Regions from separate parts of the Homo sapiens genome. Here all the other regions are linked to region 1. Evidence: fine-mapped expression QTL. A gene starts in region 1. Each other region holds a variant in brackets. All regions are shown on one strand. Distances are between the middles of the regions. Region 1 holds the start of SSH1 (slingshot protein phosphatase 1). Region 2 overlaps CORO1C (coronin 1C). Region 3 has its middle 57 kb from the start of CMKLR1. Region 4 overlaps SSH1 (slingshot protein phosphatase 1).

What was found.
Region 2: its variant is fine-mapped to the expression of SSH1 in whole blood (TOPMed, PIP above 0.99).
Region 3: its variant is fine-mapped to the expression of SSH1 in lymphoblastoid cells (GTEx, PIP above 0.99).
Region 4: its variant is fine-mapped to the expression of SSH1 in whole blood (INTERVAL, PIP above 0.99).

The regions. Positions count from the first base shown.
Region 1 is chr12:108,853,635-108,861,740 of GRCh38, forward strand. It overlaps SSH1 (slingshot protein phosphatase 1), which reads right to left and starts at 3,949. Exons shown (of 15, transcript NM_018984.4): 1 at 3,794-3,949. The coding sequence starts at 3,862. RefSeq lists enhancers at 331-1,530, 2,645-3,146, 3,199-3,248 and a silencer at 3,679-4,418.
Region 2 is chr12:108,686,115-108,694,220 of GRCh38, forward strand. The region is part of intron 2 of CORO1C (coronin 1C); the gene reads right to left. Among named protein-coding and RNA genes, the nearest start is that of CORO1C, 41 kb to the right of the region's middle. RefSeq lists enhancers at 5,289-5,568, 5,359-6,040, 5,519-5,813, 6,041-6,722, 7,436-7,948. The variant T/C (reference allele first, on the strand shown) is at 4,515.
Region 3 is chr12:108,278,268-108,286,373 of GRCh38, forward strand. It overlaps the pseudogene LOC196469. Among named protein-coding and RNA genes, the nearest start is that of CMKLR1, 57 kb to the right of the region's middle. The variant C/T (reference allele first, on the strand shown) is at 4,330.
Region 4 is chr12:108,826,222-108,834,327 of GRCh38, forward strand. All of the region lies in intron 2 of SSH1 (slingshot protein phosphatase 1), which reads right to left. Among named protein-coding and RNA genes, the nearest start is that of MIR619, 6.7 kb to the right of the region's middle. RefSeq lists enhancers at 1,439-2,010, 5,462-5,571. The variant G/C (reference allele first, on the strand shown) is at 3,257.

The DNA.
Region 1 (8,106 bases):
GTACACCAGCCCGGCGCAGTGGCTCACACCTGGAATCCCAGCACTGCAGGAGGCCGAGGTGGGCGGATCACCTGAGGTCAGGAGTTCGAGACCAGCCTAGCCAACAAGGTGACACGCTGTCTCTACTAAAAATACAAAAATTAGCCAGGCACGGTGACATGTACCTGTAATCCCAGCTACCTGGGAGGCTGAGGCAGGAGAATCACTTGAACCCAGGAGGCGGAGGTTGCAGTGAGCCGAGATTGCACCACTGCACTCCAGCCTGGTGAAAGAGCAATACTTCGTTTCAAAAAAAAAAAAAAAGCGTACACCAGAGGGCCTGGGAGTCCCTACATCATATTAAGATGAAGTACATACAAGATTCTGCAGAGGCACCTACCCCACACTGAAGGAGAAGTGGAAAGAGCAGGGAAGGCTTCAATGACCACAAAACAAGTCACAAGAGCAACAAATTGACAAAGAGTATGTTGGGGTCTAACCCAGTGGTTCTCAATGCGGAGCAAGTTCTCTCAACAGGAGACATTGGAAGATGTCTGGAGGCATTTTTCTGGAGGTCACTACTGGCACCTAGTGGGTAGAGGACAGGATCCCACAACACACAGGATGGTCCCCCCACAAGAGAGAATGTTCTGGTCCCAAGTATCAACAGTGGGTTGAGAAACTCTGGTCCAATCCAAAAAAGTGCCTGGAGATCTGCCCATGAAAATTAGTCACTTTGAATGTTTCTCAGAAATAACAATGTTATGATCCATTCCTGAAAATTATTGATTTATCTATTCTTGTGCTCTGCCTGTTCACACAAAGGAACTGAGATAAGATTCACAGGAAAATGACATAAGTGACATAATCAAAGACTGGGAAAAAAAGAAAATTAAAAGAGAAAAGAGAGCCTTAGGACTGAGGGCTGTGATCCCCCGTTTCCCACGCCGGCAGCAGGCCTGGCTGTGTCAGGAAAGCACTGCCCTAAGTGTCTGACTCATTATGAAGTTGCAATTTGAAGAGTGATGACGTGACTTGGGGGTACGGACTTCACAATCATTTAACTCTCGGTCACTCTCTGAGGTTCTCAGATGAAAGGCCATCTCAGGTCAGTTATTCCAGGGAAACTACATCTGCCAAGGAACACATGAAAGAGGTAATTCAGTCCTTTTAGATGAGCCAGGGCCCACACACAGGAAGCAACTCAAGCGAGGGCGGACCAGGGCAGAACCGGCCTGGCCTAGGTCTCCTGACCCCATACACACTTGCTGTCTCCATCCCACCTTGCTTCTCACCTCAACACATCTGAACGAGGGCCTTGCCTTCGGGAAACATCCCAGCGCATTCAAAGCCAAGCAATGAATGCTGCAGCTTTGCTATGATCAAATAAAAGCTGCCTGAGTTTTACTTTATGTTTATCAGGGTCATTGGCACTTGGTAAAAATAATGCTTTATATAATAATTGAAAATGTATCTAGTAGACACAACACAAATGTCCAACAAAATGTGGTACATCCATACAATGGAGTATTATACAGCCATGAAAAGGAATGAAGTACTGCCACATGCTACAATATGCATGAACTTTGAAAACGTGATGCTGAGTCAAAGAAGCCAGACACAAAAGGCCACACAGGGTGTGATTCCATTTATATAAAATGTCCAGAATAAGCAAATCCATAGATACAGAAAGTAGATTAGTGGTTGCCTAAGGTTAGGGAGAATGGGGCAGGGGGAGGCTGCAGGTGAGGGCTAACGGGTACAGGGTTCCTATTTTGGGGAGGATGAAAATGTTCTGGAATTAGATGGTGGTGGTTGCACAATCTCATGTATATACTAAAAACCACTGAATTGTACACTTTAAAATGGCAAATTTATGGTATGTAACTAAAAAATAATAAGACCTTAAAATGCGTAAGACAAGAACAGATTAGGTTGCAAGTAACTCTAGGAACATGGGGTTTTGAATCAGAAATCTGGGCTGACAGGTTCAGCCTGAAGCCAACCTCTCCCCTTACCTCACATAAACTTTTGTGATGAGAACCTGAGATTAAGTGCATAAATTGCCAGACAGCAGTGACCGGAACAGAAAACAGCCCCTCCTCGCTGTGGGAAGGAAAGGCGCTCCTGCAACCTAACTTCTCAGTAGCAGGCTATTGATCGCCAGTGTTCTTTTGCCTCTAATCAGCGTGTAGAGGGGGATTACTAGAACCTTCTGTGTATAGATAACTCATGAATGGCCTCTCCTCTCCAAGGAGGGGGCTGTGAAGGTTCAACTTCCCAGCCACTCTGAAAATGTCCCTGCCAATCCCAGCAAAACAAGGCTGAAGAACTACCCTACCAGGAGACAGGGCTGTCAAGCCAAATGCAAACATTATTCTCTTGTCTCTCTCAGACACACAAACCTCCCCCGTGTTATCAGTCAACTTCCCCCACTCCCTCCCACAAAGAAAGGGGCTGAAGAGCCCAGATGCTGGCTGCGGAACTTCCTGGGCCTGGGACCGCAGGGCCGCTCCTCCAGTCTTCTCTAAACACAGCTAAGGGTCTGCAGGCGGACACTCAGCCTTGTTATAGGTAAGAGTTTAGACCAGAGGCCTTGACGGGTTCTTCAAGAGATGGTGGGCAAGATTGCGCGACCAGAGGGTCATCCCTGCAGCTACAGAGGGCTGACCTGCTCAGAGGCCCAAGGCCCCAGCCTAGGACAAGCCAGGCCAACCCTGCAGGCTAAGAGGGCAACAGTGCCCTCAATCAACCCCAGAGGAAAAAGTGGCCAGGCAAACGGACCTGGGCCACACACAGACCCACAAAAACGCGCACAGTGCCAGGACACGCAACCCAGGAATGCACCTATGCAATCACCCAGAATGGGTCACAGCCACACAGAAAGATAGATGCACATAAACACACAGGCCTGAGTGATGTTACAGAAAGGAAAAGCCAGACTAAGGCTGCACGCACAGACGTGAAACACAGCCACACAGAGCCCACAGCACGCTCGGTCACCGTCACACAGTGACACGGGCACGCCTACAGACAGAACTCCAGAGGCGGCAGGCGGGGAAACAATCTCACACGTTTGTAGGGGCACTCCCAGATGCCTGTCTCACGCTGGCACAGTCCCCGGACGGCAGGTCAGCAACAGTCACATCTCACATCGCACAGCCAGGCATACAGGCAAAGGGCCTAGAACTACCCCGGCCACAGGTCTCAGAACCAGCGGCTCACGCAGTCACCCAATCAAGGGTCCCAGTTGCACATCCAGTCACCCCTGGACCCTGGTCACACTGCAGAGTCACTCACAAATGGGAGTCCCGACAGACGCACAGTCCTCCCCAGACAGAGGTCAACCCAAGATGGGGGTCACACCTGAAATCACAGTCCCCACACAATCACGAGGTCACATCTGCACACACAGTCTCTGCACAGTCACCCTTAGGGGTCACAACGCACACAGTCTCCGCCTAACAGGGGTCACCCCAAGATGGGGGTAACCCCCTGATGTGGGTCACAGCGCACACACAGTATCCTGCAGACACTCCCAGAGGGGTCGCACTGCATACACAGTCCCTGCAAAGTCGCCCCCCGATAGGGGTCACACCGCACACAAAGTCCCCGCACAGCTCCCCAAGACAGGGTCACATCGCACACAGTCCTCGCACGGTCACCCCGGTCCGGCTGCCCGGCTCTGTTCCTACGGCGGGGCCCCGAGGAGCCCGCGCAGCCGCCCCCCTGCCCCGCACGCGCGGCCCCAGCTCCGGCGGCCTCGGCGCGGCGTCCGGCGGCCCAGGCCGGGCGCGGCGAGCCCGGGGCTCACCTCGCTGTTGCTGGCCGAGGAGGAGGCGGCGCTGGGCGTGGGCGAGCGCTGCAGGGTCACCAGGGCCATGGCTGCGGCGCGGTGCGAGGGCGCCACAGACGTCTCGAGCTAGAGCCGCCACCGCCACCGCCGCCCGGGCCGGGCCCGGGGCCTCCTGGAGCCGCGCGCGGGCGGCCGGGCCGAGCCGGGCCGGGCCCGCCCCTCCCCCTCGGCGTCGCCACCGCCCCCGCCCCCAGCTCCCGCCTCCCGCGCCGGCGCGCGCAGGCCTCAGTGCGCGGAGTGGGCGGGGAAGCGGGCAGGGCGGGACGAGGAGGCGCGCGTGCGCGGGGGCCCTGAGGGCTGCCCGAGGCCTCGGCTGGTCGATCACGTCCCTCGCGCGCCCGACACACGCGCCCCCGCCCGCGCGCCCCGCTATCAGGCCTGGGACTCGGGGGCGCGCGCGCCGCCCGGAGCCCGTACGCCCCAGGGGCCCTGCCCGCTGCTCTGCCTGGGGAAACTGAGGCCCGGCGACCGTGCAGACAGGACTGTACAGCGACCAGGAAATAAAAGACGTCCTGGGGCCGGGCGCGGTGGCTCACGCCTGTAATCCCAGCACTTTGGGAGGCTGAGGCGGGCGGATTACGAGGTCAAGAGATCGAGACCATCCTGGCCAACATGGTGAAACCCCGTCTCTACTAAAAAGACAAAAATTAGCTGGGCGCAGTGGTGCGCGCCTGTAGTCCCAGCTACTCGGGAGGCTGAGGCAAGAGAATCGCTTGAATCTGGGAGGCGGAGGTTGCAATGAGCTGAGATCGCGCCACTGCACTCCAGCCTGGGCGACAGAGCGAGACTCGGTCTCAAAAAAACAAAAAACAAAAAACAAAAACAGTAAGCAAAATAGATTCGCCTGATTTTGCAGAGGTTAATCAAGTTATTAGGCACGTTTTTAAAAAAGTATTTTGCTAATCTTTTTCAATGAATTCTTTCTGGGTGTTCTGAAACCCAGCCAACTCCTTGGAGGTCAGGGAAGGCTTCCCAGAAGAGCTTTATTCTGAGGCTTGGGCTTGAGCATAAGCAGGATTAACAGGTGAAAGAACAGAGAGACAGCTCTCCAAGCAGGGGGGATCAGCGTGCCCTGAAGCAGGAAGAAGTTTGTCAACCGGAGGCCAGCACTCAGGGAAGGGAAGAGGGGAGGAATGGCTGGAGTCTCCATCCTCTCTGGAAAGATCGCTCCGGCTGCTGCGTGGATGAGGGACCACGGGGCAGAGGGCTGAGGGAGACCAGGGAGGAGGCTGCTGCTGTTGTCCCGGGGAGAGGTGACCAGTTATGGGGATGGAGAGGGGAACATGGAATAAGATACCAAGAAGGCAATTCTGGCTTGACTTAGTAGTAGGAAACTTTTCTTTTAGCCAAAATCTCATCTCCCGGCTCCCACCCCCAACCTCTGCATGTTGCACAAGCACTCGCAAACGCAGTGGTCCCAGCCTGCCCCGCAGCTTAGCAAATTTGTCTTACTGCCCAACAGGAAACCCACGCAGCCTCCTGGATTCTTCCCCGTCCCTCCCTCTGTCCTGGGGCTGTGACCTCCTCCATGTTATTCACAGGGTCTCAGCACGATTCATCTCAAAGGTGATTCTAGTGGGGGGCACTGTAGCTTCTACGGAGCGTTTCTAAGAGGGGATTTGTGGGAATGTTTGTGGTTGTCTTGCTGATGGAGGGGGAGAGCTCCTGGCATTTAGAGTGCAAGAGCCTTGGATGCTAAATGTCTTCCAATGCACTGGACAGTCTCCCCAACAAGAATTGCTCCATTCCCACAAAATGTTTCCTGGGTGAAAAACCCATTTATAGTAATTTGAAGCCAGAACCTAACTCCATTTCATGCATCAACACTAGTCTTCCTTCCTTCCTTCCTTCCTTCCTTCCTTCCTTCCTGCCTTCCTTCCTTCCTTCCTCTCTTTCTCTCACTTTTTTTCTGAAACAGGGTCTCACTCCCGTCACCCAGGCTGAAGTGCAATGTCACAATCATAGCTCACTGCAGCCTCCATCTCCCAGGCTCAAATCATCCTCCTGCTTCAGTCTCCTGAGTACAACGGGTACACACCACCACACCCAGCTCCTTTAAAAAAAAAGTTTAACTATGTTGCCCAGGCAATCCTCCTGCTTCCGCCTTCCAAAGTGCTGGGATTACAGACAGAAGCCACCATGGCTAGCCTGGTATTTTTTACTGAATTTTCAGAAAGGTGACTATGTTGAAACCCTGTCTCTCCTAAAAATACAAAAAATTAGCCAGGCATGGTGGCGGGCACCTATAATCTCAGCTACTCAGGAGGCTGAGGCAGGAGAATCACTTGAACCCGGGAGGCAGAGGTTGCAGCAATCTGAGATCGTGCCACTGCACTCCAGCCTGTGTGACACAGCAAGACAGAGAGAAAGAGAGAAGGGAAGGGAGGGGAGGGGAGGGGAGAGGAGGGGAGAGGAGGGGAGAGGAGGGGAGGGGAGAGGAGGGGAGGGGAGAGGAGGGGAGGGGAGGGGAGGGGAGAGGAGGGGAGAGGAGGGGAGGGGAGAGGAGGGGAGGGGAGAGGAGGGGAGGGGAGGGGAGGGGAGGGGAGAGGAGGGGAGGGGAGGGAAAGGAAGGGAAAATACACTTTGTTTTGCTTGAGAGTTTTGTCAAGAGTTGTTCATCCATCCTTAGGGAAAAGGAGGTAATGGATGGCAACGCCTCTGCTAATATTAGAGCATCCCACACAAGGTGCCCACAACTGTAGCTGCACTCTAGGTAGACAGACAGTCATAGGTACTTAAATGTCAAATATAAGGGAAAATTGTGGACAAAATTCAGTTGAGTAGAGAATATTTTATTTCTCAAATCCAAGCACATTGATTATTGGCAGGCCCATGCTTCTGAGATGCCCCTGTGTCCTCTAAGGGAGTAGTGGCTGAGCATTTCCACATTGTAATGCATGTTGTTTCATTATGATTTATTTTTCTTTTATGTCTCTCTTACATTAGTTTTCAAATTTGAGAGTTTGAGAATCCCCTGGAGAAAATACAGATTGCTAGACCCCACCTCCCAGAGTTTCGAATTCACAAGGTTTGCTGTAGGGCTGGAAAATTTGCACGTCTAACAAATTCACAGGCAATGCTGATGCTTCTGTCTGGGGACGACAGTCTGAGAACTACTGCCTATACAAATGCAATGGCCTCTTCACCAAGAAATTCCTACCTAGATCTGATCCTGGTACCCGTCCGTGGCCCCCAATCCTAATCCCCCTGCTCTGGCCGGCCTGCTTTTCCACTCACCCCAACTTTTTTGGAGGCAGTCTCCACCCCTTCTCACTTCCTCTTAGAGCTGAGAGCCCTTTTCTTCCCCACAACTAACTCTTGCTAGAAATCACCTCCAAAAAGCTTTCCCTGCCCCTTAAGCAGTGTCATTTCCAGGATCTCGTAGCCCTCACCCTACCCTTAAACACACAGCAAGTGTCAGTCTGCCTTATCATAATGGGTCCATCTCTCTGTCTTGTCCCATTACCGTAGAGCCAGGAACGGTCCCTAAGAAAAGCCTCAGGAATCAGGCTGGGACCAGCGTGAGGGTGCAAAATGTAAGAGGGTGCCCCCAAAAACTCAATGATTAAGATAAATAGTATTTTAATGCAATATTTTAGAAAATCAAAATTAATGCCAAATCCATGATGAATAAAATATTTTTAAAATTTGCTTTTTTTTTTTTTTTTTAATTGAGACAGAGTCTTGCTCTGTTGCCCAGGCTGGAGTGCAGTGTGGCACAATCTCTGCCTCTTGGGTTCAAGCAGTTCTCCTGCCTCAGCCTCCCGAGTAGCTGGGATTACAGACCCCCACCACCATGACCGGCTAATTTTTGTATTTTTAGTAGAGATGGGGTTTCACCATGTTGGCCAGGCTGGTCTCAAATTCCTGAAATCAGTGATCTGCCTGCCTCGGCCTCCCAAAATGCTGGGATTACAGGTGTGAGCCACTGCACCTGGTCAAAATATTTACAAAAATTTTTTAAGAGCCAAGGTCTCATTCTGTCACCCAGGACTGGGTGTAGTGGTGCAATCCTAGCTCACTTCAGCCTTGAACTCTGGGCTCAAGCCATCCTCCTGCCTCTGCCTCCGGAGTACCTGAGACTACAGGTGTACACCACCACGCCTGGCTGACTTTATTTTTGCCAGAAACTGGGTGTTGCTATGTTGCCCAGGCTGGTTTCAAACTCCTGGAGGCACTCAATCCCCCGACCTTGGCCTCCCAAAGCTTTGGGATTACCGGCATGAGCCACCACACCTGGCCAAAGTATCAAATTTTTAAGTAAAATTGGC
Region 2 (8,106 bases), 170 kb before region 1:
AAACATCATTCTGAAAGACATTTTGCACTAGGATCTAATAAGAACACAATTCTCATTCGTCTGCACGACACATACTGATTTATCATGTAGTGAACAAACCAAAGAATCCATGTATAATTAGCTAGATTGTGAGGGGCCACTCAGAAAGACATCCACCACATGTCATGGTGACAACACAGTTTACCTGAACCTCTAAGCAGCAAATTTAAATGAATGCAGAGGCTGAAAGGAAGATGTACAAGAATTAAAGCCAGCTTTTAGATATCTTTTTAAACTAAAAAATGAATTATTTAAGAAACTCCCACCAATCTTCTAAAGCTTAGAGATAGAAAAACTTCACTTTACTAACAGATCAGTCCACTATTTCACTAGGGATAAATCACCTCTGTTGCTTAATCTAGAATATTACTACTTTTCTGGCATGAAATTGAAGTAGTTTAGCTGAAAATGTAATAGCCATTAGACTCCTTGCTTTAAATAAATTTTGATTCATTGATTACTTACTAGTCCCAATCACATGCCATAGGATAGCTTTTGTTATACCTTTCTAGCTAAAACTCCAAATGATTGGGATTACTAGCATGTCAACCCAACAGGTGGCAAAAATGGCCAGCACCAAGTTTCCCAAAGGCTCTGCTCCAGAGCCAGTTCATAAACTCGTGGGACATTGGTGAAATAGGTCAGGACACTGGCCTACAGACATTATTATCTGAAAGATCCAGTACAGCCTGCCCAGAGCCAAGCAACATGAGCCGAAAGGAAAATTCAGCTTCCAAAGCATGTATACAGCTGGCACAAGGGAGAGGTGTAATGGCACAATTTCCACGTGGCTGGCCAGAGCTAAGGGTGATGTCTTATGAGCATGTTCCAGCCAGCAACCTTCACCGTGGCAGAAACCGTCCCAGATACAAGCACTATCATTTGCTTTGGGGAAAACACTTAAAAATCTTGAAGTAGCTACAACACAGCCGAGTTCCTGGAGACTGATACTTCAACTAAACCCACAGAGTTAGGCAACATTTCCTCCAATGGGCATTTTGCGGGGAGAAAGTGAATGAAAATCAAAATGTAAGCATCAGTAAAAATATAACTTTATCAAATTGCTATAAAAGGAAAGTTCAATAACTTAAATGACTTAGCAAAAAACATTCCTCTTTAGGCACACTAAATTCAACATAAATCTTAAGAAATCCGGCGAAACCCTGTCCCTACAAATATAAAAATTAGTCAGGTGTAGTGGTGCGCACCTGTAGTCCCAGCTACTTGGGAGGCTGAGGTGGGAGGATCACCTGAGCCCAGGAGGTCAAGGCTGCAGTGAACTATGATCGCGCCACTGCACTCCAGCCTGGGTGACAGAGTAAGACCCTGTTTCAAAAAAATAATAATAAGGCCAGGTGCAGTGGCTCACGCCTGTAATCTCAGCACTTTGGGAGGCTGAGGCGGGCGGATCACTTGAGGTCAGGAGTTCGAGACCAGCCTGGCCAACATGATGAAACTCCATCTTTACGAAAATTACAAAAATTAGCTGCGCTTGATGGTGTGTGCCTATAGTCCCAGCTACTCAGGAGGCTGAGGCACGAGAATCGCTTGAACCTGGGAGGCAGAGGTTTCAGTGAGCCAAGATCGCGCCAGTGTACTCCAGCCTGGGTGACAGCGAGACTCTGTCTCAATAATAATAATAACAATTTAATTAAAATTAAAAAAAGAAAAAAGAAGAAATGATATTGCTTAGCTGTAAGGGCACTTCCTATCAATCTTACTGGAAAATCACAACAGCTTCCACTTATTAACAATGTATCCCCTCTGACCCTTTTTTTTTTTTTGAGACGGAGTCTCACTCTGTCACCCAGGCTGGAGTGCAGTGGTGCAATCTCAGCTCACTGCATGCAACCTCCACCTCCCAGGTACAGGCGATTCTCCCGCCTCAGCCTCCTGAGTAGCTGGGATTACAGGCACACGCCACCACGTCCAGCTAATTTTTGTATTTTTTTTCACTATGTTGACCAGGCTGGTCTCAAACTCCTGACCTCAGGTGATCTGCCCACCTCAGCCTCCCAAAGTGCTGAGATTACAGGTGTGAGCCACCGTGCCCAGCCCAGTATATCTTATTTATCGATCTCACATCTCCTTCTAAAAAGGAATCCACATTTAAGAAGTAGACTCATCCTATATATTGAGGGCAGTACTGAGTACAATAAAAAAAACTGTTAATGTACACAAACATGTACAGAAAATTTCTGACAGACACGTCTCAATAAAGTTCTGTGCTGGGGTGTGTTTTTAAAGCAGCTAGTGGTGTATTACACATGTACCGCAGCCATGTTCACCTTCCCAAACTCTCGAAATTCAACATTGGGAATTTTGCTTCCAATATGTCCTACATATTACAAAAGATCATTCAGAATGACTGTTTCTTCATGTAAGAATGATTCCTCACATAATTATTTCTGACCCACATATTGGTTTGTGGTTGAAGACACTACCAATTGGTGTTAAAATGGATCAATCTAAGCTGGGCACGGTGGCTCACACCTGTAATCCCAGCACTTTGAGAGGCCGAGGCAGGTGGATCATCTGAGGTCAGGAGTTCAAGACCAGCCTGGCCAACACGGTGAAACTTCATCTCTACTAAAAATACAGGCCGGGCACGGTGGCTCACACTTGTAATCCCAGCACTTTGGGAAACCAAGGCAGGCAGATAGGTCAGGAGTTCGAGACCAGCCTGGCCAAAATGGTGAAATCTCGTCTCTACTAAAAATACAAAAATTAGCCCGTTGTGGTGGCACATGCCTGTAATCCCGGCTACTCGGGAGGGCTGAGGCAGGAGAATTGCTTGAGCCTGGGAGACGGAGGTTGCAGTGAGCTGAGAGCGTACCACTACACTCCAGCCTGGGCGACAGAATGAGACTCTGTCTCAGAAAAAAAAAAAAAAAAAATTAGCCGGGCATGGTGTTGGGCACCTGTAATCCCAGCTACTTGGGAGGCTGAGGTGGGAGAATCACTTGAACCCGGAAGGCGGAGGTTGCAGTGAGCTGAGATCGCACCACTGCACTCCAGCCTGGGCAACAGAGCGAGACTCCATCTCTGAAAAAACAAAAAAAGATGGATCAATCTGATAATCACTGGTTCCTGCAAGAAAGGAAATGTAACATTATGTTAAAGTCGCACAACGCTTTACCCAGCAGGCCTACTCTTTCTCATAACTAATGTATGTTTTCACAAAGTAATAAATTCCCATGGTGATAAAAAGTGACACATTCATTCGAGTGATAAGTCAAATCAAATATTCCCCTTTAAGAAGCTCAAGGTATCCCACACACAATTTCTTTCAAGTTTGCATTCTGGAGTGTATCATATAAACCCACACCTTCCTAGGGTGCTGGATTCAGACTGCTTTCTACACGGTTTCCCTTATCTAATCCAACTCAGGCAGCTGTCTCACTTCCAGTACTTTTCCATCTCCTGATCTGCAGTCCTCTATGCCTATTATCCAGACTGGTTACACCACCCGAAGATGTAAGGGCCTAAGAGCCCCCACCCCATCCTGGGGAAGGCAAACAAAGATACTTTACATGACCTGACTCAAAGAACAGTTAAAAGATTTCCACATTGTTCAAACCCCTACCTAATATTCATCTAAGTTTTCATTTTAGGAAAAAATGAGTATCAAAATCACTTTATGTGCCCAAATTTCAATCATAACTTATTTTTGGCTTTGGGTGATACATACTGAGAATTCTTCAACTCAGCAAGGAGAATGTTAAGTCACACATGTGCTCAGAAGTAGAGGAAAAGTTTTCAGCCCAAGCATAAGGGCTCCATTCACACTGTGCAGAGTTCAAAGGAGTCAAAAGCGTATCTATTGAAGTGGGTTTTCCATTTTTTTCAACTTCCTTTTTCTTATGACAGTATTATTTATGTGGATACATGTTTTGTTTGAATTTCTTAAGCCCCTGCTGCTCCACGGGGAGGAGCTAGAGTGATTGTGGTCATGGGACAAGGGGACAGCGGCATGGAAAACAGAGACTCAGCAGCAGACCAAAAAGACGGGTGCACACAATATATGACTTGTGCACAGGCTGGTCCCTGAGAGTGACAGCTCATGGCCCAGGAATAAAACATTCTGAGGAGGCTTTACTTTAAGGGAACCAGAAATACCATCCTTGAGGTAAAAGGAGGTGCTCTGGAATAAACCCTACAGATTGAGTTACCCTGTAAGGTAAGGTAAGCTAGAAACAAAAGCTGCTGGGGAGAGGGAGTATGGGCCTACAGAGACTTCACCTGCCTGTGAGTAAAAAACAGCAGTCTTTTTGGACAGAAGTGAAAATGCCAAGCAAATAATTTTTGCATCACAGATCCTCTCTAAAAACTGGGTTTAATACTGAATAGACCATATTTTAAAATCAATTAAGAACTTGAGGGAAGTTATTGTAAAACTACAAACATTTTATTATCAGAAAGCAAAAACACGGAAAAGTTAACATTTCCTTACTCAACCTTGCCCAAATATGCGA[T/C]AGCAACCAGAGTAGCTGTATTTCCTAACTTCCTGACTTAAAGAATTTATAAAGTGAAAACCTAATGCTTTCTGCTCATTATTGCAGACAAGTAATTCCATATGATGCTTCTGGGCTGAGAACAAATAAAAACTTGGAACCCAAGATGAGGTAGAATCTAGTTAAAATAAAATTGAGCTAGAAAGCAAAAGCTGAAAAGCAGAAGAACTACAGATGTAAATGCAATATGGAAAATTAAAGCATTCAATATCAAATCAGAAAATAGAGAAACTGGTTGTCTAAGCCCTCGTAGTAAGCAAATGACATTGGAGATTGATCTACTGAAACCCTCTGTGAACGCTGAAGAGCTCCAGGGCTAACCCTTCCCATTGCAGCTCTGCATTGGTTTAATCCACAGGTCTCAGAATGAAAATCCACCCTCCTTGGATGGTGGAGATGATAAATAGAAAAATATTACAACTTTTTTTGGGGGGTGGGAGGGGCTAATGCCTTGGGCTCCATGGCTGAGTCAGTTCCACACAAGCAAGAGGACTGCAGTATAGACTCAATTCAGTCAGCCAGAAATGAAACCCAAGTCACCGTTCCTCCAAGAAAGCAGACATGTGTCCCATCACATGCCCTCTCAGCTCATTCTTCCCCAGACTCAACTCAGGTCCCACCCCTAATGGGCGAAGATATTCAACTTGGCAGGAGCAGATGATTTGCTACATGTGGTTATAAGGTGGCTTCTGGGCAAAACCGTGACTCCAGAAATGTGTTCATGACACCTTGAGTTTATTTCAGAGTAATGTGTGTTCAGATACCTTTCTTTACCGGAGATACAGCAGCTTTCCCAGACTGGGGTTACCATGTTTACACACTGAGGGCTTCTGCTGGCAGCAATTGTCAGCCTGCTTAGCACAGACTGGCACGCTCCACAAACCCAGTAAAGAGTTAAACGTTCTTTGCACTTGACTCAGTGGCTTCTCTTCACCACACACTCCCAGATCCCACCATTCTCTGAGCCACCCGTGCAGCCAATCAAAGCAAAGGAAGGAAATTATCCTGGCCGGCTGACAGCCACAGCGCTCTGATGGCCATATATGGTAAAAACCACTGTCAGAGCCCTGTCAGGCCTGCGGGCCGGCTGCTGTGGACATATCAGTGAACTGCAGCAGCAGGAGAAGCTGGCCAAGGAAACGCACAAAGGCTGCCTGCTCATCTCCAGGGGAGGGGGTGGGGTGGAAACCATCATCTGCCAGGGCACACATTCAGTGAGTCACAGCCACTCACTGTCATCAAAAATAGCCCCGGGGTACATTGGGAAGTTCCTTCTGCCAGGACTTTGTGCTCCATTGTTAACTGGGGGTGAGCAGGGTGCCCACCCCACCCCTCCCAGCAAAACTGTGGATAACACAGTCACTAGGAGAAAATGAAAAGGCCCTTCTGTGGCACTTCATGTGGTAATGAGGCCAGGCCGTGCTCGTGTGGCTGGCAGCTCGTGACATAATTTGGAAGTCATTGTTCTGCACCTGGTGCCCTCCCCCTGCATCCTCCACCCCTCCCAGTCCTGTCCCCCAGCTTTTCACGGCCCATACACTTGGCAGTTGAAGGTGCTCCAGGCATCAGACAATCTATTTCAGGAGGCAGTGAATGGGCATCCCACGACATGTCAGGACACTGGCTGGCTCTGAACAAAATCCTCTGCCCCTAACACCAAAGCTACCAAGTGCCAAATGTCCACATCTGTACAAAGGGCTACCGGCACTGCCACTGTTGTCTAAAACAGAGTACCACAATGTGTAGAAATGGAAATTGCCTGTCAGCAATGCACAGTAAGGCAGACATGCAGCCAATGCAAATCCAGCAGGTGCTGGCAAAGACTGTGGATCACACAGAAAAGCACTGTCAGGAGACTGCCATTCCCTCTCAAGTAGCCCATGAAAGAAGGCACTTATCAGCACGGCGCCTGGCACTTAAAGGAAGCCCTCAACAAATGTGAACTGCTGCGATTTCATCACTGTCACTGTGTCCTCACAAGGCATGGTATAGACCAAGTACTTTCCAAACCTAAGACAATTCTCTGAGCTGACAGAATGAAAGCCCTGTCAAGTTACTGTTTTTGTTATTAAACTCTCTAATCCCAGAGAAAGAATGCAAAGGATTCAGTGTCCATTAGACCACAGCTTTTTTTTTTTTTTTTTTTTTGAGACAGAGTCTTGCTCTGTCGCCCAGGCTGGAGTGCAATGGTGCTATCTCAGCTCACTGCAACCTCTGCCTCCTGTGTTCAAGCCATTCTCCTGTCTCAGCCTCCCGATTAGCTGCGATAACAGGCGTGTGCCACCATGCCCAGCTAATTTTTGTATTTTTAGTAGAGACAGGGTTTCACCATGTTGGCCAGGCTGGTCTCAAACTGCTGACCTCAGGTGATCCACCTGCCTCGGCCTCCCAAAGCGCTGGAATTACAAGCTTGAGCCACCGCGCCCGGCTAAACCACAGATTCTATATCCTCCCCCCTAAAGAAAAATTCGTTCACACTCAGTAGAAAAAAAATTAATAAAAATATACATGTACAAATCAAATAAGGACTCAGCAACCTAAGTTCTAATTCACAAACAACCTCACGGTCTTGGACAACCACTCAATTTGGTTTCAATTTCTACAACTGTAGAACAGAGGAATGATCCCACCCTACCAAGTGAAAAAACAGAGACACTGTTCATGAAGGGGACTATCCACGTACGATCTGCTGACATTCTGCAGTCTCATTTCCATCAACGTGACAGAAGTCACTGCTTTTTCCTAAAGATGATACAAACGAAAGACGCCATGTTGATCTAGTTAAAACAATGATTCTAAAATATAAAACAGTGCTTATTCTAGTTCTTTTCCCCATAACAATCAAGGAAAATACCAATTTTGCCAAATTCACACTGAAAGTGAAAGAAAGGGTCAAGAAATGTAGGATTTTCTACCAAAAAGCTATCCTTCAGCTTCTTTTGACTCATAATGTTAGTTCACACTATGCATAAATGATTTGTTTATCTTCCAATCAAACATTCTATTTCTGCAATACTACAAAAATCCACCTAAACTAGACATCCTGGAGTCTGAAGGAGGAATGTGCCTACCACCTACTTCTTTGCCCTCCTAGGGACAGAGCCCCTCTACTAACTTAACAGTTTAAAAGTTGGGTTGGCTCCTCTTCTGTTTCATCTTTAGCTCCTACGCAGAGGAAAAAAAAAAACCTGAATTCAAACCGAACCTTCTCTGTGATGTCTTCCTTACCTTCTAAGCCTAGGGTGAAACTATCTCTCACACCCCAGTGCTAAAGCACTTCATGCACAAAGCACCCCCCTGGAGAGATCAAGCACAGTTGTTGAAGCTTCTTAAAAGCAAGAACCTAGCCGGGTGTGGTGGCTCACGCCTGTAATCCCACTTTGGGAGGGCAAGGCAAGAGGATCAGGAGTTCGAGACCAGCCTGGCCAACACAGTGAAACTCTGTCTCTACTAAAAATATAAAAATTAGCCGGGCATGATGGTACACACCCGTAGTCCCAGCTACTCACGAGGCTGAGGCAGGAGAAGTGCTTGAACCTGGGAGGTGGAGGCT
Region 3 (8,106 bases), 580 kb before region 1:
CTTGTCTGAATGTCCACTTCTTTGTCCTGTGTCCCCTGGGTGGATCCTGATTGGTCTAAACCAATCTTCTTTCCTTATCAGTGATTGGTTTAGCAGTAGCCATGTGACCCAGTTCTGGCCAAAAAGGTGTGAGGGGAGTTCTGCTAGGGGGTTGGGGGCGGGGGCAGATTCCCTTGCAACACTCTGAGATAATCAATGGCTCTTCTACTTGATGCCATGGGCAGCTGCAATATCTGATACTGTGAGTGCCATCTTTTGACCAGGAGATATGTCATTTTGGGGACAAAGCCAATCCTCTGAAGATGACAGAGCAAACAGAAGGAAACACTCTGGATCCTTGATGCCAATATTCAGTTGCTGAGTTCTCAACCTCCAGGCATTCTTAGTATGCAAATGAATGCACTTTTCCTATAGATTCTACCGTTTTGAATGAGGTCTCTGTTACTTGCAGTCCAATGCATTCTAACTGATATAATCTTATTTCTTTCAAACTTTGCTTGGTTTATTTTAAACCGTGATTCCTAAGATAAATGTTAAATAGCATAGGGTATCAAGACTTTTATTCGTGTAATATATATTCCTAGCCTTTAAAGATATACTGATTTTCTGTTTCTGTGCTTCTCAAGTTTACAGGGATTGATGTGTCTGAACCAAAATATGAGAAGATGACTGAGCAGTTGAATGAAATGGAGGATCACATCATGGAGTGGGAAACCGGAGCCGGGCATGGACATGTCCAAGTTTTTGCCATGTCTCACTGCTAATGTATTGTGAGACTAATTTTTCATCAGAGATCCTGGGATGGGCTTGACAATACTGATTATAGGGCTTTTTATCTCTGACATGTTAAGATTGAACTAGCTGTTTCCATACATCTATCTATATCTGTGAGGATTCTGTGGCCAGCAGACCGAAATGAGGTTTATAAAAGGATAGAATGCCCAAGGAATTCAGGAATCAGAAAGTGGGGACATTTCAGATTCTAATAACCTGCAAAACCAATCGTCCCTATAGGGAGAATGGAAGAAGCTAGGGAGCCTCCACCTATTCCCTGTTTCTTTATCCTTTAACCTGCCTCAGTTCCTGCAATTTCACCTTTAGCATGCCATTCACTTGGGTTAAGCAGCATCATCTTTTACTGCTTTTTCAAAGGAAGGAAAAGCTATTGGATTAGGTCACTTTTCTGTTTTGAGAATTCAGGGATGGGAGAGCAGTTATTGACAGGTGCGTCATAAAACCCAGAATCAATCTCAACTCAGCAATCCCTAGCCAAAATGTGAGTCTTCTCTAACTCCTGACAAGTTCAAGGCTTCATAACATGAAGTCTTTCCCTTTGCTCTGTCCTAATTCCTCTGTATCTAACTTATTTAACTCAGGAAGGATATGTAGTAAAAGAGTATAAACCACACAGTTATACAGCTGTGGGTTCAAATCTCAGCTCTGCTGCATGCCAATACATTGCAAGATTCATGAAGGTCAGGATGGCATCTGCAGCTGTATCCCCAGAGCCTAGCACATTGCCTGCCATATAGTAAATCCTCAATACAAATCAATGGGTAGATTCTGTGTGGTTCTGGGAAGCTTACTTGTTCCCACTGAACTTCACTTCTTCGTTTCTTTCTTTTTTTTTTTTTTTACTTTCATGCAAAATCTTTATTTGGAACATGTGTGTTACTGAGCAGGCCAGCCGCCATCCTGAAATAGCAAGGGTATTTACATTGTGCAGAGAAACATAACAGCTCCTTGAAGACATTCATCTGTGCTTGGCCGGTATTTTATCTGGTACTTTGCTCTGCTTCTCTCTTCCCTGTGCTCATTATTCTTCATGCACCCTCACTCCTTTTCACCTTAAGGCATCCTGTACCAGCTGACCTATGGGCAATGACCGAAGCCAACAATCAGCCGCTACCAATTGTGTCTTTCTGGGACCCATTCTACCTGCCTTAGGTATTAATGGTGCCTAAAGAAAGAATAAACAGATGAAAGTTTCTGTGGTTAGCTGGCCATGGTGGTGCACACCTGTAGTCCCAGCTACTTAGGAGGTTGAGGTGGGGACAGCACTTGAGCCCAGGAGCTCGAGGCTGCAGTGAGCCATGATCACACCACTGCACTCCAGCCTGGGCTATAGAGCCAGACCCTGTTTCAAGGAGAAAAAAGTTTCTTTGGCGTTGCCAAGCCTTGTCTTCACCAAATTTTAGAAGTTTTTTTTTTATTTAGTATTTCATTTTATTCTTCTACATATAAAATCAAATGGTCACTGGATTAGTAAATTTGAAAACTTTCTGTGTGTATTGACCATAATCTTAACTACTGTATCCTTGAAACATGGTATAAATTTTTGATTAAAAGTAATTCACTCTGATTTTTTTAAAAATCTACTTGTCAGCCAGGCACAGTGGCTCACACTTGTAATCCCAGCACTTTGGGAGGCCAAGGTGGGTGGATCATGAGGTCAAGTGTTCGAGACCGGCCTGGCCAACATAGTGAAACCCCATCTCTACTAAAAATACAAAAAAAAATTAGCCAGGCTTGGTGGCGGGCGCCTGTAATCCCAGCTACTCAGGAGGCTGAGGCAGGAGAGTCACTTGAACCTGGGAGGCGGAGGTTGCAGTGAGCCAAGATTGTGCCACTGCACTCCAGCCCAGACAATAGTGCGAGACTCTGTCTCAAAAAAAAAAAAAAAAAAAAAACTACTTGTCAGGAGCTCATTGCTTTGCTAGTGTCCACTGCTCAGCCAGAGATAGTGGTGAATGGCCTGTTTGCATTTCTTGAAAGATTTCCATTCTGCTGCTCAACACAGGTTTTCTGCCTTCTTTAGAGTCTGAGGTCCATCCTATGGTTTTCCTGATTCTGGAGAATGGCCTGCAGCCTCCCACTTAGGGCTTGACTGTGCTCATCTAGTCCATCCCAGGGCTGGAAGGGACATCCCTGGTGGTCCACAAAGGTGACCCAGCAGTGCCTAAACTTCCGGAGGTCATGATGGAGATTTGGGTCCCAGCCCTCTGCAGCATGCACAGCCCCTCATATCCTGGGAGATAATTATAGATGCATGCAGCGAAGATGTGCAGGCTCACACATCTGTTCTCCCAATGAAATGTAGCCACTTGCTGGGCACAGCTGAAGCAGGGACTCCAGGAGATGAACCAGGTGACCCTGTAGCACTGAGCCCGGTCCAGCTTCCAAAAGGAAATCAGGTACAGGAAGCACTGCTCTGCATGGAAATCTTAATAGCAACTGAGATTATTCAAAGCCTGGCTGGGTAGGATGCCCTTGTTGCTGGTCCAGAGGGACCCAGGCATCATTGTTTTGGCACTCCACCTTGCAGCACAGGTAGGTCTGGTGCTGCCCAGAGACTGAAGGATCATTGGTAAAATTGTAAGTGAATGTGTCTGAGAATCTCCCCCAGCATGCTGTGCAGTAATGCATAATTTGTATTCAGTTGCTTCCAAGGATCAAATAGCATTCTTTGGTTGTACACAAATTTGTCCCAACAGTGTTGAAATTCATCATAGTTCATGATCTTCATGCTGGCATGTGGACTGTTTTTTCTGACACCATCTGTGAAGCTCCTCTTGGTAATCTGCTTCCCAGAAGTAGTAGAGGTGGGCAACGAAGATGGTCAGGGTGACCTTGCCATCCTTGGCCAGGAACTCTGCCACGTTCCCTGCATACTCTGAGCAGGGACTCCAGGAGATGTACCAGATGACCAGGTAGTCCTGGTCACGATGCAGCCTCGAGTTGCAGAACCAATCTACGAATCTCATCTCTGGGTGGTGTTCAGGCTTGGAATAGACCTGGCCTCCAAAGATCCTTGCGTCCAAAGGGGGCTTTGAGGGGTCCTTCTTTGTTTTCATTTTGTAGCACAGCCAGGTGGTGTTCCAACCTGAGAGGATGGGTCTGTTTTCAAAGTTGTAGTAGAATGTGCCTGGATACATCCACTCCATCAGGTTTCTGATCTGAGGCTTCATGTGCAGCCTTCTTGGCAGGCTTGCCCTGACCATGATCTTTGTCTGAAATTTGTCCCCTGTCCCTACCTCTAAGATGTTTCTGCTTAGCTTCTCTGACAGTGAGGGCTCGAATTTCAGCTGACCCAGCATTTCTTCGTTTCTGAAGACAAGGTGGTTTTACCATTTAAGCTTCTGATAAGGATGAAATAGGTTGACCAATGTGGAGTTCCCTCTGGCTGCCTGTCACCATCCCTAAAATCCCATCACAAGTCAATCCTTCCCAGTAAGGCACTGGTGCCCAGGCAGTGGGCTAGGTATTGTAAACTGCCTGCCATCCACCAGGCTATCATCTGCCAGCAGGCAAGGCTGAGAGCCTCCATTC[C/T]ACCTCCCTGTATGGAATTTGCTCCACAACCGCAGTCCCAACATCTGGAGGCAAACTGGAGACTTGTTCACTCATCTTGATGTTGCTCTGAAGGTGGAAAACATCTGCATAGTGGAAACCAGGGAAAAGATACCCTGGATCTGCCTCTTTCTGTGTTAGGCTTCTGGGCCCCACGGGACCCCCAGGTATTTGGCTGTGTGTTGGTGTCTTAGCGTCATCCAGTGTCCAGCACAGACTTTAATGCCCAGTTGACTATGATTTCTAAGTGAAGGGATAAACACAGGAAGTCTGTGGTCACAGTGGTACCAGCCAAACCCTTAACAGAAACCTGGTCCGGAAAAGAACTACAAAACAATATGAGGAGGAGGGAGGCATCTGGTTCCTTTATTTTCTGGCTGTAATAAATCAGACAACAGGGAAAAGAAAAGGCCAAGGGAGGTGGAAGCACTTGATAGAAACCTCCTTTGTCTGTGATTACTCTTTTTTTTTTTTTTCTGAGACAGGGTCTCACTCTGCTGCCCAGGCTGGAGTGCACTAGTGTGATCTTGGCTCACTACGACCTACGCCTCCCAAGTTCAAGCGACTCTTGTGTCTCAGCCTCCCGAGTAGCTGGGATTACAGGCGTGTGCCACCATGCTCAGCTAAATTTTTTTGTATTTTTAATAGAGACGGAGTTTCTCCATGTTGACAAGGCTGCCCTCAAACTCCTGGCCTCAAGCGATCTGCCCGTCTCAGCCTCCCGAAGTATGGGGATTGCAGGCCTGAGCCACCGCGCCCAGCCTGTGATTACTCTTAATGGCACAAGTAAAGAACTGTGTCTCCTCCACTTCTAAACTAAGTGACCTGCGACCTCAGTTTCCATGTTGGTGAAATGAGGAAAAATCCCACCCTCCCCAGGTTTCATTAAGATAGGAAAAAAATGTGAAAATACTTTGGAAACGGTGTATTATAAAAGTGATTGTCATGAAACTCGATGATGATGATGGCAAAAATAATGTCAGCTTATGATAATGTCTTCATTCATTCAACCAGAAGTTATGAGCAGCTTTTCTGGGCTAAGCACTGCTAGGGATACAATAAGGTGGCCAAAGTCCCTGCCATCTTGCTGGATCCAAGTAGGGGCCAGACTTAAGGCCACTAAATACACACATAATAATATGATTTCAGATGGCAGTAACTAGTATAAAGAAAACACTAATACAAAATAGGGATCTGATAGGCAGCGAGTAGGGATGGAGGCTACCTTAGCATGGCCTGTCTGAGGAGATGGCATTTGGACTGAGACCAGAAGGAGGCGGACGAATCAGTCATGCAAAGGGAAGAGGCAAGTGGGCCCAGAAACAGCAGGAATAGCAAGTGCAAGGGCCTGAGGTGGGACCAATCTTGGCTGTATTGTTGCTGTTGATCTGTTTGTTTCATTTTGCTTGAGAGGCAGAAAGGATCACCTAGCTGGAAAGCAGCATGAGATGAACTTAGAGAAGGAGGCAGTAGCCGATCACATAGGGGTTTTGATGCCATAGTAAGGGCTCTGGATTACTGTATTCTGTGATAAAAGCTCACTCTGGCTGCTTCCTACAGTGTGGGTTGAGGGAGCAAAGACAGAAGTGGGGAGGCCAGCAAGAAAGCCGATGCATATTCAGATGAAAGAGCCTGGCACCTGCTAAACGCTAAAGTGCAGCAATCTCACTGAATCCTCACAGCTGCAAACCTTTATCATGCCCTTTGTCATACAGAGGAGAAAACTGAGGCTTCGGAGGCATTGAATAGCTTGCCCAAGGTCACAGAGCCTAACTCTAACCCTGCCCTTAGCTGACGTAAATAGCAGAGCTTGGATTCGAGCCCTCGCAGTCTGATTCCTGAGCCTACCTGACCCGGTGTCATAAACATCAAAGTCCCTTTGAGTCAGGTGGTGAGGCTGGGGAGGCCCCCAGGAGGGCTTAGTCCTTCCTGAGACTCTACCTCTTTGGATGGATGCTGCAGGAGCCACTGCCCTCTAAAATGCTCTCTTGAATCAAGGACAAACCGTCAGACCTGGTCCTGTCCTGCCACTACCTGTCCTGGGTACCAGTGGAGGTGGGAACTCATTTCTGCAGACAACATGAATTATTTTATTTTTACAAAGACTTTTGCTGAGGCATAACTTACTATAGTGAAGTGCGTTCGTCTTCAATGTACAGATAATTGGGTTTTTACAGATGAACCCCCATTCCCCACCCCTTACCCCGTGTAACCACTATCTAGGTCAAGATGGGGAGCATCCCTCACTCATATTCAGGACAATCTTTAAGAGTAACATTTATGCCCCCAAACAAAGCATGTCTGCCCTACAGCAGTTTTTGCCAAGATCTCCCGCCTCCCCTTCAGCCAGGATTCTGCTGGAAACTCCTCAGGGGAGCCCAGACCCTGGGCAGAAATTCTTTACAGCAGATTAGCACCAAAGTGCTTGTCAATAAACTAAGAAGTGAAGCAGGGTGGCTTGGTGAATGCTCAGGTCTCTGGGGTGATGGTGTTTTAAGAGTGACTCAGGTGAGCATTTTCACACACTTCTCATCTCCCAGCAGTCAGTGAGGCAGGTGGTCTCCATCTTATTTGCAAAGAGGTCTCAGTTTCACCATCTGTGAAATGGGGGAACAGGAAGGGACAAACTTGAGGAAGTAGTCCTTTCCAAACGCAAAAACCCTAAGATTCTCAGGGTTGTGAGAAAGTGACAAGCCCATTCAAATGCAATTTCCTCCTCTCAAGGAAAAAGCAATTCCTCAGACTCCCCGACTCCCACATCTTCAAAATTTGACATGGGAAAGAGAATATGTTCTTGTCCTCTTCTCTCCAGGGAAGGGTCTCTACAGAGGACATTTTGCATTTGCACATTTCTGGGGAAAACAGCAGGAGCTTTCAAGATAAACATACTGGGGTTTGAATCCCAGCTCTGTCACTTACCAGCTGTGTGGCATCGGGCAAAGTCACTTCACCTTTCTGAACCTCAATCTCTTCACTTGTGTATGGAGATAGCAATACCCCTACTGTGAAATCCTTGTTGCAAGGACTCAATGAGACAATGAAACTGAAGAGCTTGCCCAAAACTTAGACAAGGCTGAATTAGTATTTGCTATTATTACTGCTGTTGCTGTTTCTGCATCTTTGAGCACAAGGTAAGTGTTTTATAGACCTGTGCTTCTTCCTCCCTCACCAACTCTCATCTTGCCCCCACCTGTCTATTGACTAGATACCTAGAGCAGTAGCTGCCTGACTTGTCTGGGGGTATCCCCATATCCCAGGGGGAGAGACTTCTGGAAGATTCCCCAGGACAGAACTCAGGTGACCCCCAAGGTCAAACCCCAAGTCCAAGTGCTTGGCATCTCATCTGTATAAAGTCCCCACAGCACAACCTGCAATTGCAGCATTAACATGCCTCTGTTCCTCTTAGGTTAATATATGTATTATTTATAGGGCTTTATTATGTGTTCAGAGGGCTCCCCTGAGAAATATAATTGTGCATTGGGTGGTACATTTGAATAATATTTACAATTAATTTCAGACAATAAAGCAATGCACCGAGGCCTCTGTGTAGCAGAAATGGGCCCTGGGTTGGTTTCCCACTAACCACTCCCCTGAGAAAGCTTGGGTAGCTTTTAAATATCTTTCCAATAGTCCATTTCTCTCCAGCATCGCTTCTGTTTCCCCAGTCCAGATTCCACCATGGCTCATCTGAGGCTGCAGTAGCCTCCGGGCTTCCCACTCTGCCCCTCTCCAACCTGTCCTCCCCAGAGCAGCTAGGGG
Region 4 (8,106 bases), 27 kb before region 1:
TGCAACAGACTAGGCTGGTTTCACTCTGTGATCACTTACAAGGCCAGCTGTTCCTCCTCCATGTTCCTACACTGATAAGAATCAGGGACTCCTGCTCTACGCATGAAGTCAGGATGGCATTGATTGGGGCCCTGGAACACTCTGCCTCTGTTCCCCCACGACAATCAAGTAACAGGCATTTACTGTAAAAAGCAAGACTGGAAGCTGCAGGGAAGCCCAAGTAGCAGCGCATTATCCCGAAGCTGTGAGATCACCCTGCGTCCTGCAAATACAGTCAGGAGATACAGCCAGAGGAAACCGCACGACATGACTCTCCGGGTGGGGGGTGGGGTGGGAGGCCGCAGAGCATGGTCAGTCACAGGATTTATGAAAACAAGATGCAGAAAGTCTCTGTGACCCGGCTTCCTGGCTTCTCTTCTGAGCTCACTCTGGGCCCAGAGCCTCATGCGCCCTCTGCGTGGCTGACCTGAATACTGTATCTGACGACTGCAGCTTCTGATGCCCAGAGGCACAGGCTCCCGATTCATCAGACCCTCAAAGTGTCCCACTGGGGAAGTCCATGAAGAAATCCACATTGGTGATGGCACGCTCACTTTACCAGGTGTCTGGGGCCAGGAAGCCCAAACCCACAAGCCATCCATCCCAGCCACCCAGAAGTCACTCTTCTCACAAAAGATCTGAGTGTCCTAAAAGGAGTGACTAAAGTTACAAAAGGTCAGACGCAGACAGACAAAACGGAAATGTCTTCCTCCACCGCTGTAAGAAAAATCTTGATGAGGGATAAAAAAAAAAAAAGCCGCTGCCCTCTCTACCCGCCAACTGGAATGTTTTTATCTCCACCACACAGATCTGTTCTCGGACACTGATTACTGCCATTCGGGAAGCTTCATAAGATTAAAGTTTCTCCAAAGCATTGAAGACAGACAAAAAACCTCAATCAATGCTCCTCAAAAAACCCCAGGCCCCCAAAATATAAACAGCCAGTGTCATCCAGAAACCAAGCCATGGCAGGAAACCAGTAATCAGGGTGGTCATACGTACTAATTTGAGCTGGAAACCTCTGGACAGCAGAAGCAGTGGGTTGGCTGAAGGAAGATGCAGAAGTCGGTAAAATAAAAGAGGTTCGTGGCTGCAGTGCTCACATCTCTAACGCTCCCTACAACTGCCCTCCGAGCTCTGGCCATCTGCTCCCTATGGAGATCAGGAAAAGCCAGGAGGCTGCCGAGTGCTTCCACGAGGGCTGGGGAGCCAACTCCTCCTCAGAGTCCTACCCGAAAAGCAAATGGCTCTTGTGGAACTCTTGTCTTCCTCTGATATTTTGGCTGAAAAAGGCCCTTGTCCCAGCACATCCTGATGAAAGAGGGCCATTCAGCAAAACAGCTGAGGTTCCTCTAATCACTGCACTCCTACGGGCTTTTCTGTAGGCCGGAGAAACAAGCACCGGGGTGTGCATTCGACATTGTGAGGGCAAACAACTGGCCCCAAGGAACCAACCCCAAGCAACAAGACCCCCTTCCGATTCAAATCAACATTCTGAAGGATGACTCTTTCTTTCAAATCAGCATCCATTTACCCAACGGTGACGGTGACGTGGGCAGCTGCCGCAGTTAGTTATTCTGCGTACTCAAAGCACGGTTACATCCTGAAAATTCTTCAGTCATGCTAACAGCTATCTGAGGGGACACGCCAGGTAGAGGGGACCACATGCACACCTATGAGGAGCTCTGGGATACGCACGGTGCCCAAGGCAGGTCAGGCTGCAAAGGTCCTAAAGGTTGGAGGTGTGATCCCAAACCCTCCAGGCACAAGCCAGCCAAGAGCTGTGTTTTTAGCGTTTCTTTCAGTGAGAGAAATAAGTTCAGGATGTGAATAACCATGACGCAGGAGAGAATGGAATAAGTACCCTAAGAAAGGGGCTCGGCTAGGGTTTACAAGAGGGAGGAGGGAGCATTTAACTGGTGACTTCTGGAACAATTCCTGAAGGAAGCAGCACTGAGTAGGGGCTTCTCTTCCCTCGGCTCACAAGTGACCAAGCGATCCTCCCTACGGATTAAGTGAAACACACATTACCATGATTCTGGTTTTGCAGGTGAGGAAACCCCAGCTTGCCTAGGAGCACATATCTCTACAAGATGGGGCTGGACTCACATCTATCTGCCCCACGCCCACCTGCTTAACCCCTGTTAAGCAGCTGTTCTACTCATCCAGAATGAAAATCAGAGCCATTATGCTGCGGTCACATCCGCTCATGCCTGCCCAGGTGCCTAATGGCAAAGCCACTAAGGCACTGAGAAGTCAGAATGTGGATCACATCTTCCGTCCTTCTTCCCAGTGTGTGAATGCATCATGCGTGGGAAAGAGAGAGAAGGAACCATTCAAGCAAACAGAACTCCAGGAAGACGAGACTGTGCCGGGGTTCTTCCATCTGCCCAAGTAGAAATCAGAAGGGCAGGGGACCCACAGCCTTATCCTACCCACCACTGCCGTCATAGTTGGGGGACAGGACACATCCTTTGGCCCTTCTGCACTGCATAGAGGCTAAGGAGTTCTGTAAACCACACAGCCACGCTGACCAAGAAGTCGCTTTCAAGGTAAGTTTCTCATCAACAGGACTATTATTTACTGAGGATCTCCCATGTGGCCAAGGCTGTAGGAGGTACTTAGCTACGCCACGTCATTGAACTCTGGCAGTTCTGCAGGGTAAGGTATTTTCTCCATATGACAAACGAAGGAAGCCCGTCAACAATTCCAAAATAGAATCACCAGGGATAGCATGGACAACGCCCATGGTGACTGCCGCGCTTTAAGGTTTAAGAAAAGTAAAAACTGGGGGTGATGACTCATTCCTGTAATCCCAGCACTTTGGGAGGCTGAGATGGGTGGATCATTTGAGGTCAGGAGTTCGAGACTAGCATGGTCAACATGGCAAAACCCTGTCTCTACTAAAAATACAAAAATTAGCCAGGTGTGGTGGTGCATGCCTGTAATCCCAGCTACTCAGGAGGCTGAGGCAGAGAATCACTTGAACCCAGGAGGCGGAGGTTGCAGTGAGCCAAGATCGCACCACTGTACTCCAGCCTGGGCGACAAAGTGAGACACTGTCTTGGGCAGGGGCGGTGGGGAACAAAAGTAAAAACAATGGTCTGGGAATTCATATTTCTGGGTTCCAATTTACATTCTACCATATATACTCTGATTAACCCCTAGAATTAACCCCTAGAATTCCTTACAGGGTTCTGTTCATTCATCCAAACAG[G/C]CAAACATTTGCAGAGCATGGAGCACAGGGTAAGCCAAGCCAGCCCAAGCTCTGATAAGGGCAAAGACAGCCATCCTCTTTAAGGAATGGGTATATGTGCTGGTGATCTGGGTGTCTGCCCTGCTGCATAGAAACAGCATTTCTTGAAGAACAAAAATAGTAGGTATAGAAACATCACAGTATGGAATATCCAAACACCCCTGAATTCCAACTCTGGTCATACATTGAAACAACCTATCAAACTCCTAAAACACATTCATGCCCAGGTCCAGCCTCAGCAGAGTCTAATTCGGAAGGTCTGTGATGAGTCCTGGGCATCTACTTTTTTAAAAAGTTCCAGGGAGCTGGGCATGGTAGCTCATGCCTGTAATCACAGCACTTTGGGAGGTCAAAGTGGGAGAATCAGTTGACCCCTGGAGTTCAAGATTAACCTGGGCAACGTAACAAGATCCCATCTCTACAAAAAAATAAAAATAAAATTAGCTAGGCTTGGTGGTGTGTGCCTGTAGTCCCAGCTGCTCAGGAGGCTGAGGTGGGAGAATCACTTGAGCCTGGTGAGGTCAAGGCTACAGTGAGCTGTGACCACACCACTGCACTCCAACCTGGGAGACAGATCTTGTCTCCAGAAAGTTCCAGGGGGTGCTTCTGATGCACAGCCAAGTTTTAAAAACCTCAGAATCAAATAACATCATGGCCAGGCATGGTGGCTCACGCCTGTAATCCTGGCACTTTGGGAGGCCAAGGTGGGTGGATCACTTGAGGTCAGGAGTTCAAGACCAGCCTGGAAAACATGGTGAAACCCAGTCTTTACTAAAAATACAAAAATTAGCTGAGCGTGGTGACGCACACTTGTAGTCCCAGCTTCTTGGGAAGCTGAGGCACGAGAATCACTTGTACCCTGGAGGTCGAGGCTGCACTGAGTGGAGATTGTGATCCTGGAGTCCCCACTGCACTCCAGCCTGGATGAGAGTGAGACTGTCTCAAAAACAAACACACAAACAAACAACATCAGAAGACACAGAGAAAACAGTCTTCTCCATGGGCTTCATAAAGATACCTCTCACATAGGTACACGTCGATGTTTTCTGCTGGTAAAAGGTAACACCAACAAAAAGGCATGGTGCTCTCAGAAGGTGGGTGATGTGATTAGGTGCAATAAAGGGAGGTCATGCTAGGGTCAAAAACAAAATAATACTCTCTTTGGAAGCAGTAAAACAGATGCTAGTCTTCTACTACACACTTTCAGAGACCTGAATGTTCTTCTGGCCCTCTAAGGGAGACGCTGCATCATGACAATACGAAATGATGACAGTGAAAGCAAAAACAGATCAGACCTGTGCTGTGTGAAACAGACATGGGGTCTCGCTATGTTGCCCAGGCTGGTCTCCAACTCCTGAGCTCAAGCGATTGTTCCGCCTTGGCCTCCCAAAGTGCTGGGGTGACAGCTGTGAGCCACCGAGACCAACCTCAGATCAGACCTTTGACAAACTCTGCTGTGGACAAAGCATTCTGGTGAATGTCAACTCATCTGATCTTCACAAAACCGTGTGGAAGACCAGACAGGCATTATTACACTAATTTATGCCTAAGGAAACAGGGAGTTAAATAGTACAAATTTAGGATTTCTGATGCTGTATCTCGAAAAAAAAGTAGAGAATATGAGCCTGAAGAAGAGGCCCTGTAAAGGGTCCCAGATTGATGGGACAGGCTGAGACAAACGGAATCACTTTTCCCTGGATAGAACTAACCCTCAATGGTACCCCACTCTGCATGGTGATTACTGAGGGGACTGTCAATTGTCCAGCGAACTTGATGGTAATTCTAGGAGAAAAAGGAACTAATGTAATGCTGTCAGCATAGAAAGATGGGTGCCAACGAGCATTCCAAAAAGGAGGCTCTGTTAATTCGGTTTCGATCAACAAGTATTTGCTGAGTGTCTATTGTGTCCGGTCAGTGCTAAGGCCTGAGAATTTAGAAGTGAAACAGACCCGGTTTCCACCCATGCCACAGACCACTCCACACCTGGTCTGGAGTGACACTGGAGGGCCAGGCAGGCACAGGACAGTAACTTCGATATAAGGCAGCAAGTTCCACGGTGGAAGGAGGTGGAAGGTGCAGATGCACGTACACACAGGGGTTCAGGGAGGCCTCCCTGGAAGAAATGAAGCCTGCGAGGCCCTGAAGGATCAGTAAACAGAGAGGCATAAGGGGCAGGAGAGTAAGATGATTATGCTACATGTACCTTATTGTGAACCCAGGAGGATTTGGCCTCTGTCATAAAAGGCCCCCCTGTGGGTTCATAAACCTCAATTTACAAATTGTGCTTTATATATCAGTTCCTTATAAGTTTGGTTAGCGTAAATTGGTTTCTTAGAACTTGATCATCCCTGAGTGAACTCACAAATTCAAGTTTCAGAATGTGCAAACCTAAGAAACAAACCTCATGCTTGTGGTTGAGACATCGCACTGTCAACATCACAAATTCTCAGCACCTGAATGCCTGGTATACTATCAACATATATTGTTTTAAATATGTAAATAATAGCTTTCTAGTTATAGAGAGTTTGTCCCTACATTTTTCCACTTAATTTTTACAATCCCATTCCCCTGATGAAACAACCCCAGCCTGGGCAACATGGCAAAATCCTGCCTCTACAAAAAATACAAAAATTAGCTGGGTGTGGTGGCGTGCACCTGCAGTCCCGGGTATTTGGGAGGCTGAAGTGGGAGAATCACTTGAGCCCGGGAGGCAGAGGTTGCAGTGAGCCAAGATTGTACCGCTGCACTCCAGCCTGGGAGACAGAGGGAGACTCTGTCCCACCCACCCCCGCCTCCCAAAAGAAAAGAAAAGAAAGAAAAGAAAATGAAACCACCAAGACTGGGAGAAGATAAATGACTTGTCTGTGGTCATCTGGCTAATAAGAGGTAGAATGGGGCTGAAAAAGTTCGGTGCTCTTCCTGAAGAATCCATAGGTCAGAAAGCAGCACCATCTGACCTGCAGCAATAGCAGCAACGTGGAAAGCTAATCAACTGACCTCAAAACCACTCTCAGTGAGGCTCTGGATGGATTCAGAACCCCAGGCCTAGCAAAGTGAAGTTGATAAAGATGTAAAGGAGATCGAAAATTCACCATTTGGAGAGAGATTAGCTAAAGACTGCAGGTCGGATGGAAAATTCTTTCCATGGTTCTCCCACAGGTTCTTCCCTCATTTGGAACTCGTGTTTAAAAGTCACAAAGACCCTGAGTTGGGCCAAGGTCTCGTTCTTCTTCACTGTGGGCCTTGCAGTGCAACATGGCAGGGCCTCGTTCCAAATGTCACTCTTCAGAGCCTAAGAAAACAAGTAACTTTAGGGACACACCTGTCAACCGGAGCTCCCAAATTGTACCCCCCTAAACACATAATGCTGAGCATAGAAAAATTCCAGCTCTGCAGAGCGTTATACTTAGGGAAAGGGGTCACAGACAAGGAATGCTGGCAGGGCTCATTACAAATATCTTTGCTGCTGGAACATGTATTGTTTGGCTAGAAGGCGTAGGCTTCTCTCAGAGAGAAGGAATGTCCAAAAGTATTTCAGACAGTAAGAGACATTCTCTGAGCCAGCTACACAGCTCTCCTTCAAACCAACGGGTAGCGGCAAGCAGCTGAACTGACCAGCGAGCTCGCAAAAGCAAGCTTTTTTTTTTTTTTCTCCCTAAATAAGACAGCAAGTGATGTGTCTTGGCTTGGTTTAGCAAATTTTAAGATAGTTCCCTGATGACCCCAAGAGCCCTCAGGCCCCATGGAAGCTGGAGCTAATGCATCTTCCTCCAAGCATCATCTGCTCTACCAGGATCTAAGCCCCTTCACGAGGGCAGAAGGTATAAAGGCTGCACTGTGCGGGAAATGCTATGGCAGCAAAGACAGCCAAACACGCCAGAAATAACAGGCACATGAAGGAAATGTTTCTGAGACAGCTCAAAAATTCCGAGAAGAGATTATCCCGACTGTCCCAGGTTCTCAGCCCTGTCTATGGTATGCAGCCCCATACCACAGTCATTTGTCACCGAGTCCTAACTTTGTCAGAGGCCCCTCCTTTCAGGTCTCTCAGGCACCACCCAGTTCTGGCCCTCCTCACCCCCGTGAGCCAGGCGACATCCAAGCAGCCCCACGGTGCACCCGGCTCTGTGCTGCATTCTCTGAATGTCCCTGAAGGCCAGGGCTGTTGTATTCTCTACCCACTCTCTGTCTAGTATGGGAGCCACTGGCCAGATGTGTTGACTGAACACTTAAGATGCAGTAAGTGTGACCAAGAAACTGGGTTTGTCATTTTATTTCATTTTAGTTAATTTAAATTTAAGTTTAATTAGCTACATGAGGCTATCAGCTGTGGTATAGGACAGCAGAGCTCCGGAAGCTTTTGGCCTGGTGAGAAGAATCAGGACAAGCGCCTCCCTGGCCTCTCGCCCACTCTGCACAGCCGCTAACCATTGCTCTCATGACATTCTTTCCCAGCCCCAGAACTTTTAGCCATGTGACATCATCTATTGATTAGAGTCCAAACTTCTTGTGCTAACTCTCTATGGGTTGCCACAATTAGCCATTGTATGTCGTTAACCTAAATTTCATTCATCTGCTATGTCCTGACCTTAGGGGCTTAGAATATAGTTAGAAAACAGTATTTCAGAATAAAAAACCATTCTTGTATTACCTCTCGCACTATTCCCCCTGTTCTCCATGCTTCGCATTCTCTGTTCTATCCCCAGCTATAGCACTGTCCCCATAAAGCCTACTGTGGTTCTCGGCTCATGGTGTCCTTCCTCCCATCTGCCTCCCGACGTCATGCCTGTCTTCCAGTGTTTATGCCTTCT